Linked DNA regions of Homo sapiens: region 2 is linked to region 1. A link means that fine-mapping ties the variant in region 1 to the plasma level of a protein whose gene starts in the linked region. Region 1 holds a variant in brackets. A gene starts in the other region. All regions are shown on their forward strands. Region 1 overlaps EGFR (epidermal growth factor receptor). Region 2 holds the start of AREG (amphiregulin).

Evidence for each region. A credible set is the group of variants that fine-mapping cannot tell apart. PIP is the chance, under the fine-mapping model, that this variant and not a neighbour inherited with it causes the effect. The UK Biobank Pharma Proteomics Project read protein levels with antibody pairs (Olink). The fine-mapping took linkage between variants from a reference panel, not from the people measured, so its PIPs are less certain.
Region 2: AREG starts here. The variant in region 1 is the best candidate, but not a certain one, in a credible set for the plasma level of the AREG protein (UK Biobank, PIP 0.53).

Annotation. Positions count from the first base shown.
Region 1 is chr7:55,167,316-55,172,696 of GRCh38, forward strand. EGFR (epidermal growth factor receptor) reads left to right here. Exons shown (of 28, transcript NM_005228.5): 16 at 3,860-3,898. Among named protein-coding and RNA genes, the nearest start is that of EGFR-AS1, 19 kb to the right of the region's middle. The variant A/G (reference allele first, on the strand shown) is at 2,275.
Region 2 is chr4:74,442,712-74,448,092 of GRCh38, forward strand. It overlaps AREG (amphiregulin), which reads left to right and starts at 2,425. Exons shown (of 6, transcript NM_001657.4): 1 at 2,425-2,695; 2 at 3,823-4,071. The coding sequence starts at 2,635. RefSeq lists a silencer at 3,692-3,892.

The DNA of each region.
Region 1 (5,381 bases):
ATGGTGGTGATGGTGGTGAGGAGGTGGGAGTCACAATGGTGGTGGTGTTGATGGTGGTGATGGTGGTGAGGAGGTGGGAGTCACAGTGGTGGTGGTGATGAGGGTGGTGATGGTGATGAGGAGGTGGGAGTCACAACGTTGGTGGTGATGATGGTGTTACTGGTGGTGACGAGGTGGGAGTCACAATGGTGGTGGTGGTGATGGTGGTGAGGAGGTGGGAGTCACAGTGGTGGTGGTGTTGATGGTGGTGATGGTGGTGAGGAGGTGGGAGTCACAGTGGTGGTGGTGTTGATGGTGGTGATGGTGGTGAGGAGGTGAGAGTCACAATGGTAGTGGCGATGATGGTGTTGGTGGTGAGGAGGTGGAAGTCACGGTGGTGGCGATGATGGTGGTGAGGACGTGGGAGTAACAACAGTGGCAGTGACGGTGATTGAGACATGATGATGATTTGTCAACTTTCTAGGAAAACAATCATATAATCTCCAACAGTGATATCTTAATATCTTTTCCAAAAGTATCAGATCATATTATAAGGGCCAAGTTTCCAGAATAATATCAGACATAATGACAGTGGACATCAGAGCTTGGCATCTAAAGGTAATGGGAATAGCTCTAATGTCTCAGCGTGAAAAACAACATTTGCTATTAGTCTGAGATACTAATTATCTAGTTAAGGAAGTACTCACCTATACCTAGTTTTTAACTGTTTTTTAAAATCTGGAATTGATTTTGAATTTTAACAAATATTTCCCTGGGAACAATGTAAGATTCTTCATATTTTCGCCTTTGGGTATACCAACATGCCAGCTCTGTTGGCCACTTTGTGAGCTCGATGAAGCATGGTATAAAAGATGCTTTGCTAGTGTTTCACGTAATCTATTTCTATAAGCAATTTTGGAGCTAAGCCTCTGAAACAGAATTATATTATCTGTATAGAATAAATGTTTTATCTTCCCCCTTTTCTTTCTTCTGGAATAGATGTGCATCAGTATCTCTGCATCAATATCTCTATATCAGTATCTCTGTGTCAGTGAGCATATGTTGCTGGGCTTAGGGGAGGTCCAGAAAGTGATTGGGTTTTGGCATTTTCAATACACTTACTTTGTATAAGAAATAGTTTGCCAAATATAGAAAGAGGGGATTTAGTCAAGATTTAAATTAAAAATGTTAGTGGTCATTTTTCTAATGTCTTTCTATTTTTTCCCAGGTCCTAATAAATCTTCACTGTCTGACTTTAGTCTCCCACTAAAACTGCATTTCCTTTCTACAATTTCAATTTCTCCCTTTGCTTCAAATAAAGTCCTGACACTATTCATTTGACATATGGAATTTTATAAATATTTTCTTTAGTATGTGTGATTACATTCCTGATTCTGAGCCTTTTTAGATGAGTATATAGTTTGATATAATCTTGTTATTGCCACCTGTGTCTTCTCCCAAAGCCATTAATTATATAGGAATTACACGATAGAAATGGGTTTAATTTTTAAAATACGGCCAAGTGTTGATGAGAGGGAAAATTTTTTTAATTTCTTTCACTGAGTATTTATGACGTGCACAACATTCCTGAATATATTGTCTCTCTCATTTCTCAGATGGGATGTATTGCCTTCTCCATTTCTATTGTTAAAGAAACACTTACAGGGGTTTCTTTAACAACTTGTGAACAGCAGCATCAGAGCCCAGACTACAGCATAAGCAGCTGCTGATTCCAAAAGCCCTACCTTCCAACCGGGCAGGTGCAGCCACCCAGACGAGGGGGAGGAACCCTGGAGGAATAGCTATTTCTTTTTTTTTTTTGTCGAGACGGAGTCTTGTTCTGTCACCCTGGCTGGAGTGCAGTGCCGTGATCTTGGCTCACTGCAACCTCCACCTCCCAGGTTCAAGCAATTCTCCTGCTTCAGCCTCCCGAGTAGCTGGGATTACAGACACCTGCCACCACGCCTGGCTAATTTTTGTATTTTTAGTACAGACAGGGTTTCACCATGTTGGCCAGGCTTGTCTTGATCTCCTGACAAGTGATCCACACACCTTGGCCTCCCAAAGTGCTGAGATTACAGGCGTGAGCCACTGCGCCCAGCAGGAATATCTATTTTTAAATGGAACTGTGTTTTCATAGTACACGGTGAGGAGAAAGTTGCTTTGAAATCTTTATCCTAATAAACCAAATAATATGAAAATTTGCCTATTTTAATTATATGTAACAAAGTTTAGTTACTGCTATAATTGCAAATATGTATAAATTCCTTACCAAAAAAAAAAGAATCAAGTGGG[A/G]GCCAGAGAATAATTTTTCTGACAGAATTAAATAACATGCTATAGCTGCTTGAGTTCATACTCAATAGTCATTTCTGCAGAGTTACCGAGGGCCTCATCAGCGTCAGCAGGAGCCCCTCGCCTTCTGACGCTCTCACATCCTTCTCTCCTGCAGCCCCGTCCTGCCACTGTCCTTGTCCAGCTTCTCTTCAAGGGTCAACTGGTCTACCTTTCCCTACAAGTCTGTCACAGCTTCTTGTTAGCAATCCCTATGGTTGCCCAAAAGCATTTTCAGAGCCTGCATAAGACTGCATCTTGTAGAAAATTTGCAGTTTCAATCTGCCCTCCCTCTGCCGGGTGTTCCCATTGTATTGCATTCAGCAGGCAGGGAGAGACTGCTATTAGGTCTGTTCCTGAGTGACTGCTTTCTGTCTCAGACTGTTTGGTGTCTGTAGGAGGTAGTGGGGTGGGCAGTAACGAGGTCTCCTGTATATTCCACCCCTACGAAGCCTGTGTGTTTGGTTTATGAACTAAGCTCAAAAGCACCACAGGGGTAAGACTGCAGTACATGACACCATGGAAAAGAGGGAGCACCCAGACCCCCAAATTAAGAAGAGCAGTGTAGAGAACAGAGACCTGGAGAGCAGAGATAGAAACTGTTAGGATCAGATTATAGTGTTACACCAGGGCTCCCCAGGCCTCTCACATATTGAAATGTACTTGTCCATCTTTCTCCAGGCCAGGAAATGAGAGTCTCAAAGCCATGTTATTCTGCCTTTTTAAACTATCATCCTGTAATCAAAGTAATGATGGCAGCGTGTCCCACCAGAGCGGGAGCCCAGCTGCTCAGGAGTCATGCTTAGGATGGATCCCTTCTCTTCTGCCGTCAGAGTTTCAGCTGGGTTGGGGTGGATGCAGCCACCTCCATGCCTGGCCTTCTGCATCTGTGATCATCACGGCCTCCTCCTGCCACTGAGCCTCATGCCTTCACGTGTCTGTTCCCCCCGCTTTTCCTTTCTGCCACCCCTGCACGTGGGCCGCCAGGTTCCCAAGAGTATCCTACCCATTTCCTTCCTTCCACTCCCTTTGCCAGTGCCTCTCACCCCAACTAGTAGCTAACCATCACCCCCAGGACTGACCTCTTCCTCCTCGCTGCCAGATGATTGTTCAAAGCACAGAATTTGTCAGAAACCTGCAGGGACTCCATGCTGCCAGCCTTCTCCGTAATTAGCATGGCCCCAGTCCATGCTTCTAGCCTTGGTTCCTTCTGCCCCTCTGTTTGAAATTCTAGAGCCAGCTGTGGGACAATTATCTGTGTCAAAAGCCAGATGTGAAAACATCTCAATAACAAACTGGCTGCTTTGTTCAATGCTAGAACAACGCCTGTCACAGAGTAGAAACTCAAAAATATTTGCTGAGTGAATGAACAAATGAATAAATGCATAATAAATAATTAACCACCAATCCAACATCCAGACACATAGTGATTTTAATTATTTAAGAGTAGTTTAGCATATATTGCTTTATGATTTAATTAAAAATCTCCAAAATATATGCCAAAGAAGTAGAATGAGAAAAATGTATATTTCTCTTTCACTTCCTACAGATGCACTGGGCCAGGTCTTGAAGGCTGTCCAACGAATGGGTAAGTGTTCACAGCTCTGTGTCACATGGACCTCGTCAAGAATGACCACACTGCTGTGGGTGAAGATGCTTTCCTGCATTTCTGACTGTCCTCTGTCCTGATCAAGTTTCTATGGCTCTGGGCCAGCCTACCCTCAGCCAGGGTTTCTGCAGAGACTGCCCAGCTGGTTCCACGTGGCTCCACGTGCCAACTTTGTCCTCAGTGGAGGGAAAGTTGGACACACAGTGCTGGGGCTGCTCCCTGCTCCGCCGTTGCTCGATGCATGGCCTGCCTCTGAATTCCTTGGTTCCACTGGTTTTGCTGGGTCCTTCTGTGCCTCTAGCTCCTCTTTTTTTCTGTCCACTTACCCCATTGGTCCCATCACAAGCCTGTGTGTGAGTGGCCTTTCTGTTCGATGACAACCTCCAGCATAGGGGAGTGTTTCTCCTTGCTTTCTTTCCCAGACACACTGCCCAGCAAAGGCAAAAGGGCTTCCTTCAACATCAGCTCTGGCCAGTTTGCCAGAGCAAAGCCCTGAGAAAAGCAAGGTTGAAAAGTCTTATTCAAACTCACCAGGAAAGAGTGGTGTTACTCTCGATGGCGTCTAGCCAGGAATCATGGAATTATACACCGAGCACCTGTTTGCCATTTTGGATGTTTCCAAACATGAACCAAACTTCCAGGCCCCTCTGCCATCTCTGGTAACATTTACAAAGTCCCTTCCTCACCACTGCCCTTCCTTCATTTTGGCATGCTCCTCCGCCCCCGAGTTGACAGCCATAGCTCTCTCTCCTGCCACCAGTGTCACATGATCGAGGAAGAAGGCAACTTCAAAAAGACTGGGTCCCCTTCCACTCCCATCTCTTCAGTGAGCTGCTAGGACACCCAGCAGAACTTCCCCACTCCACACTGCAATCTCAGGGATCTTAGTCACGGGGCTTTCCACCATGTCTCCACCTGGAAACCAGTCATGGCCATTCCTTCTTACATCTGCTCTTTTCCATCTTTTTCTTCTCCTCCTGTTCACCCGCCCTTACTCTTGTGGCGCCCTATGGATATGCGCTCCATAGCAAATGATTCTTTATATCTTACGGTATTCTAGTGAGCTGGCACATGTGGCTTCTGGTTTCCTCTCTCTGGAACTAGACATGACCTCTGTGGGAGGGAGGATTAAATGCACCCTACAGTCTGAGGCTGCATGATGACATCACTCATCACAATGATGCTTTCTATGTCTGAATCCTATTCCTTTATAACCCCTTTCAAGCTCGTTCAGAGAGTATTTCACACAATCCATGTGCTCATCTTAAAAGCCAAGGACCCAGAGGAGTCTCAGCATTGCCAAAAAGTCCCTTCACCCAGCCTGGCCAGAGGCAGTGCCTGGTCCATGTGTATGGACTATGGCACTTCAATTGCATGGAAATACTCTTGGAATGAACAAAATACCAATCCATGAAAAAGCATTATTGAAGTCTAAGTTATTTTTTGAATCATATTTTGTTAA
Region 2 (5,381 bases), not on the chromosome of region 1:
GTGCTGGAATTTGTATATGAAAACCCACATTGGTTTGAATCTAAAGCTCATCCAAAGCACTAAGCTATGCTGTCCCCATGATCTAGGTTATGTGCCTAGATCATGTAAATGTTCACCCTATAAATTTCCAACTGGAAAAAGACTAAGCAATTTCCAATATAAACAGTCCACTTTCCCAAAAGTGAAACATTTCTGATGACTGATCTGCACAATGTGTTTTCATCTCAATAAGAAGAGTAAGAAAATGGAAAGTATTGCATATGTTAAATAGCTTGATTTAACCTCATTGTATACATATATCAAAACATCATGTCATATACTACAAATATGAAGTTACTTGTCAATCAAAAAAAAAAAGAAGAAAAGAGAAGAACAGGCCTAGAACAGAAATGAAGCCTATGGGAGCATAAAGGTGCAACAGTGTAGACCAACTGCGTGAGCTCCAAACAAAGTCTCCAAAAGAATCTTTTGAAATCTTTGGGCAAGTCTCTCAATCTCTCTGAATCACAATTGCCTCATCCACCAGAACAGATAACAGTGCAGGCCCCTACTTCACTTTGGAATGGGCATGACACTTTTCTAGCCTTATTTCCCATACTTGGTCATACCCTCACATCAGGTCTTTATTCCATGTAAAAGATTTGCTGGGAAGGCCTTTGAGGGGCCTCTTCATCTTTCCACAGAGCTTTCCATTAAACAGAGGCAAAATTAAACCATGTCCTTTTTTTCCATGGCACTCTGAACCCTTCTCATCATGTGATCTATTAGAATTACTTATCTATGTATCTGGCCCACACCACTGAGCTCCTGGTGAACCTATACTGCTCCCCTTCATAAAATATAAAGCAGGTGGCTCACACAAAATACACTCTCAACAAATGTGGAATAGAAGGCATGATTCATGATTATTTCATTCTACTAAATGCATGATATTATTTGGACTACGCACTGTGATATACCATTAAAAATAAGTGATTTTTAAAAAAAAATTTCCAGAATTAGGACAGATGCACTGTGACTCACGTTATTATTATTATTATTATTATTATTATTATTATTATTATTATTTTGAGTCGGAGTCTTGCTCTATCACCCATGATGGAGTACAGTGGCATGACCTTGGCTCACTGCAACGTCTGCCTCCCGGGTTCAAGGGAGTCTCCTGCCTCAGCCCACCCGAGTAGCTGGGACTACAGGCGCGCGCCATCACGCCCAGCTAATTTCCTTTGTATTTTTAGTAAAGATGGGGTTTTGCCATCTTGGCCAGGCTGCTCTCGAACTCCTGACCTCAGGTGATCCACCCGCCTCGGCTTCCCAAAGTGCTGGGATTACAGGCATGAGCCACTGCGCCTGGCCTGACCTACATTCTTAAAAGGGCTGTGTTACTGAAACAATCAGGAAAGAATCATATCTCCAGGTGAAGGAAAATGAACAATGCTTTTTCTCTTCCTCAAGTCAAGAAAAATCCAGTTCTTTAGTTGACAGTACATCCAAGTTAGTCAAATTAAGTAGCTTCCTGTCTCCGCTTCATTTTATCTACTTGTCATGATTAAATATCCTACTAGGTTGTAAGTGGGCCCTCAACGCTGACCTTTTTATCTTGGGATTTGAGAGGCACAGTCTAGAGCACTACTCTTCACCTAAATGCCAGTATGCCACCAGTAGAAATTATCCTTTAGGCTAAATATTGTTCTTCCCAGAAACCCTCTTTTCAAGGATCAGTTTAAACCTAAATTCATCAGAGAGGAAAACAGCAGATTTCAGAGTCAGATGAAGAATTCATATCCACCTGGCTTTGAACATTATCGGCTGTGAGATGGTGTAGGTAAAATTTTAAGTGCATAATTTGGCAATAATAAATCATCAATAAATATTAATGTTGATGAGGCCCCTGGGCCACATAAAGAAATAGGGAGTGAGGGGATTTGAAATTCTGGCCACTTCACAGAAATGGGTGGGAAGGGGCTCTTGATTGAGATAGAAGCCCATCCTACATGAAGCAATTCCTCATTGAGTTCTCTCGTCCTTTATCCTTGTTGGAAACATCAGGCAAAGTCACTCTTGGTCTTAAAGTACTTTTACATCTAAATACGGAACTCTTCTATTTAATCCCTGTCTGTTGTAGATGTTAAGTATACAAAGAGGTTGTCAGAGTTTGAAACATCTGGACTTCTGTCAGGTACTAGCTCCGGAACTCCAGTCCTGCTCGCCCTCAAAAACGGCTTGCAGCTAGAGGTTTAAGTTCCACTTCCTCTCAGCGAATCCTTACGCACGAGGGAGGCGGGGCGTGTGTCCTCCGCGCGTGGTTTTCGGGTAGCACCTTCTGGGGCGCCGCCTGCCTCCACCCACGGCCGGGCCTTGACGTCATGGGCTGCGGCCCCCTCCCGGCTGAGCCTATAAAGCGGCAGGTGCGCGCCGCCCTACAGACGTTCGCACACCTGGGTGCCAGCGCCCCAGAGGTCCCGGGACAGCCCGAGGCGCCGCGCCCGCCGCCCCGAGCTCCCCAAGCCTTCGAGAGCGGCGCACACTCCCGGTCTCCACTCGCTCTTCCAACACCCGCTCGTTTTGGCGGCAGCTCGTGTCCCAGAGACCGAGTTGCCCCAGAGACCGAGACGCCGCCGCTGCGAAGGACCAATGAGAGCCCCGCTGCTACCGCCGGCGCCGGTGGTGCTGTCGCTCTTGATACTCGGCTCAGGTGAGGATTCACCGGCGCTGAACTGCTGGGCTCTCCTCCCATGGCAGGTTTTGCCTCTTGAGTTTGGCTCTTGCTTCTCTAAAAATCGCCCTTTAGTTCCCCCGACCCTGCGCCGCAGGAGGTGATCACTGTAGCTCCCTCCCTAGGAGGAAAAGAGAAGGGCAGATGTCTCAAACGTCCAGGACAAGGTGTCCCAGAGAATCGCTGTACTTTTTCTTTAGTTCAGCTGAGAAGACGGGAGAGATCATTTGAACCTAACCCTTCGTTTCACAGATTAAAAGATTAAAAAGACCAAGATCTAGAGAGGTGAAGTGATTTCCGCAGATATTGGACCCAGCAGTGTTTGCTGCCTCCTGCCTAATTCTCCATCTCTGTCTAGTGATTTCTTCTTTACCTTCCTAGAGGGACTTAGAGTATCCCGGCGAGAGGTTAAAAGCACCACTCTGATGCTGTTTTATTGAGACCTAAGAAAAAGCAAGATAAAGCAGTGGCTTAACTCTGGGCCCCAAATCTTACTTAGTACTCAGTTTATTGTCTATGTAGTAATAATAATAATGATAATGAAAAATGACAATAATAATCGATATAATTAACCACTGTTTATATTATTTTAAAAGATTATCTTTTAAAAATATCTTTTAAAAATATGAACACATCTTTTAAAAATATGAACACATCTTTTAAAAATATCTTTTAAAAATATGAACACATCTGAAGAAAATCTGATATTTGTATCTAAAACCTACCGAAATAGGCCAGGATGGCATTCTAGCAAAAAAAGAAATGCATTTGGAATGTGAAGTGATGGGAATTTTTAGACATTACCCATCAAGTAATTGTATTAGATTAATTTGCCAATTTGGCGGGATTTTTTTGATGTGGAAATTAATGTGGATTATCTGTGGAAAAGAAAAACTTCAGAAAAGCACTTCTGTAATTGGGACAGCTGAATTTGCTTGCTGGCAAAAATGTAAAGTTTCTTTCATAGAAATGACTCAATCACAAACAATAGCACATGTGCAATAACTGCTTTGATGTCAAAAGATAAACTTTTCTACCTAACACAGCTGACTCGAAAGGCACCCTACTTTACCTTTTCTTTTCTTCCTTTATTCCCTCCCCTGCAGGCCATTATGCTGCTGGATTGGACCTCAATGACACCTACTCTGGGAAGCGTGAACCATTTTCTGGGGACCACAGTGCTGATGGATTTGAGGTTACCTCAAGAAGTGAGATGTCTTCAGGGAGTGAGATTTCCCCTGTGAGTGAAATGCCTTCTAGTAGTGAACCGTCCTCGGGAGCCGACTATGACTACTCAGAAGAGTATGATAACGAACCACAAATACCTGGCTATATTGTCGATGATTCAGTCAGAGGTGAGTAGGGGATAAAGCAAAAATATGGCCTGTGAGATGTGGGTTTATATGAGCAAAGCTGCTTCAGAAGTAAAGCTGCTCCCCAGATTTTCTAGTGGCTTTATTGTATATCTGTTGGATAGCCCCTAGGTAAACTGTGACAAAAAGAACCATAATGTGGGCACATCCTATATGGCCAGAGTGATCATAAATGGTGTATGTCTCATTTTTAAACCTAATCTTCACAATGACTTTAAGTAGGAATTGTTATCCTCATTTTACAGATGTGATAACTGAAGCCGAAAAAGGTTTTGCTCTAGGTTCTACAGGTGACAAGCAGATGAGCTAGAATTAGAGCTCCAGTCTGTTTGATTCTATGCAGAAGAGACACTAAGCTCTTTCCCACTATGCTACATGACCCCCATTCTGAGAGACAAATTTAGACATTAACCATTCCTATCTACTTTGTATCTTAGCTTTTGTATCCCCTTCCCCAACACCACCCTTCCCCAGATAACTGCATTTTAACACAAATAAGGGGACAAGGAAGTAATGGGACAGGAGGCATTAGACTTTAGCGTTTAAGTACTAGGTGATGAGAAGCTGATGGAATAATAATAATAATGCCATCTGGAAATATTAAAGAAGGGTGAATATACTTAGATTTTGTATTGCTAAAATCACTCTTTAACCCCAAATCCCATTTGTTAGTTATATAACCCATGGTTTCTTTCACTTTCCTGTTATCTCATATTTTAAAAAGGCCCTTTGCTTGGAGTGAAAGTACCAAAGTAAGAGAGAAATATTGCATACTTTGGAGTCTGAAGGAAGAAGAAGTTAACAGTAAATAAGATCTAAATATCCTAAGAGCATCCACTACAGAGGCAGGGCAAGATGGTTTCAGAGCTGTTGAAGGCCTTTTCTGTCCTGACTTGAGTTTCCCTGGCTTCTCCCCCTCTTGTCTGGTTCTCAGAACTGGTGAAGGGACATCAAGTGGTACCAGAGGGACAGTGACTTGGGTGAGTGGGAAGTGAGAAAACCTTTAGCGAACACTCCACTTAATTCCCTTCCTTCTCAAAGTGTGCTTTTCTGTGAGGTGGGTAAGGGGTTCATTTGTGCTTATTTTTGAAGGCATGAGATTAGACCCATCAAGGTGTCTAGAAACTGTTCTCTTAAACATGTTTCAAGTTGTTAACACTTCAGAAGGCCAAGTAAATGATTAGTAGTACAAATGATGACTAGTGCTCAAAATTGCAATGCATTGTGAAATAGAGTGAAAATGTTGGCTGAACACCTTCGAAAGGCTAAGTTAAATGTCCATGATGTTAGTG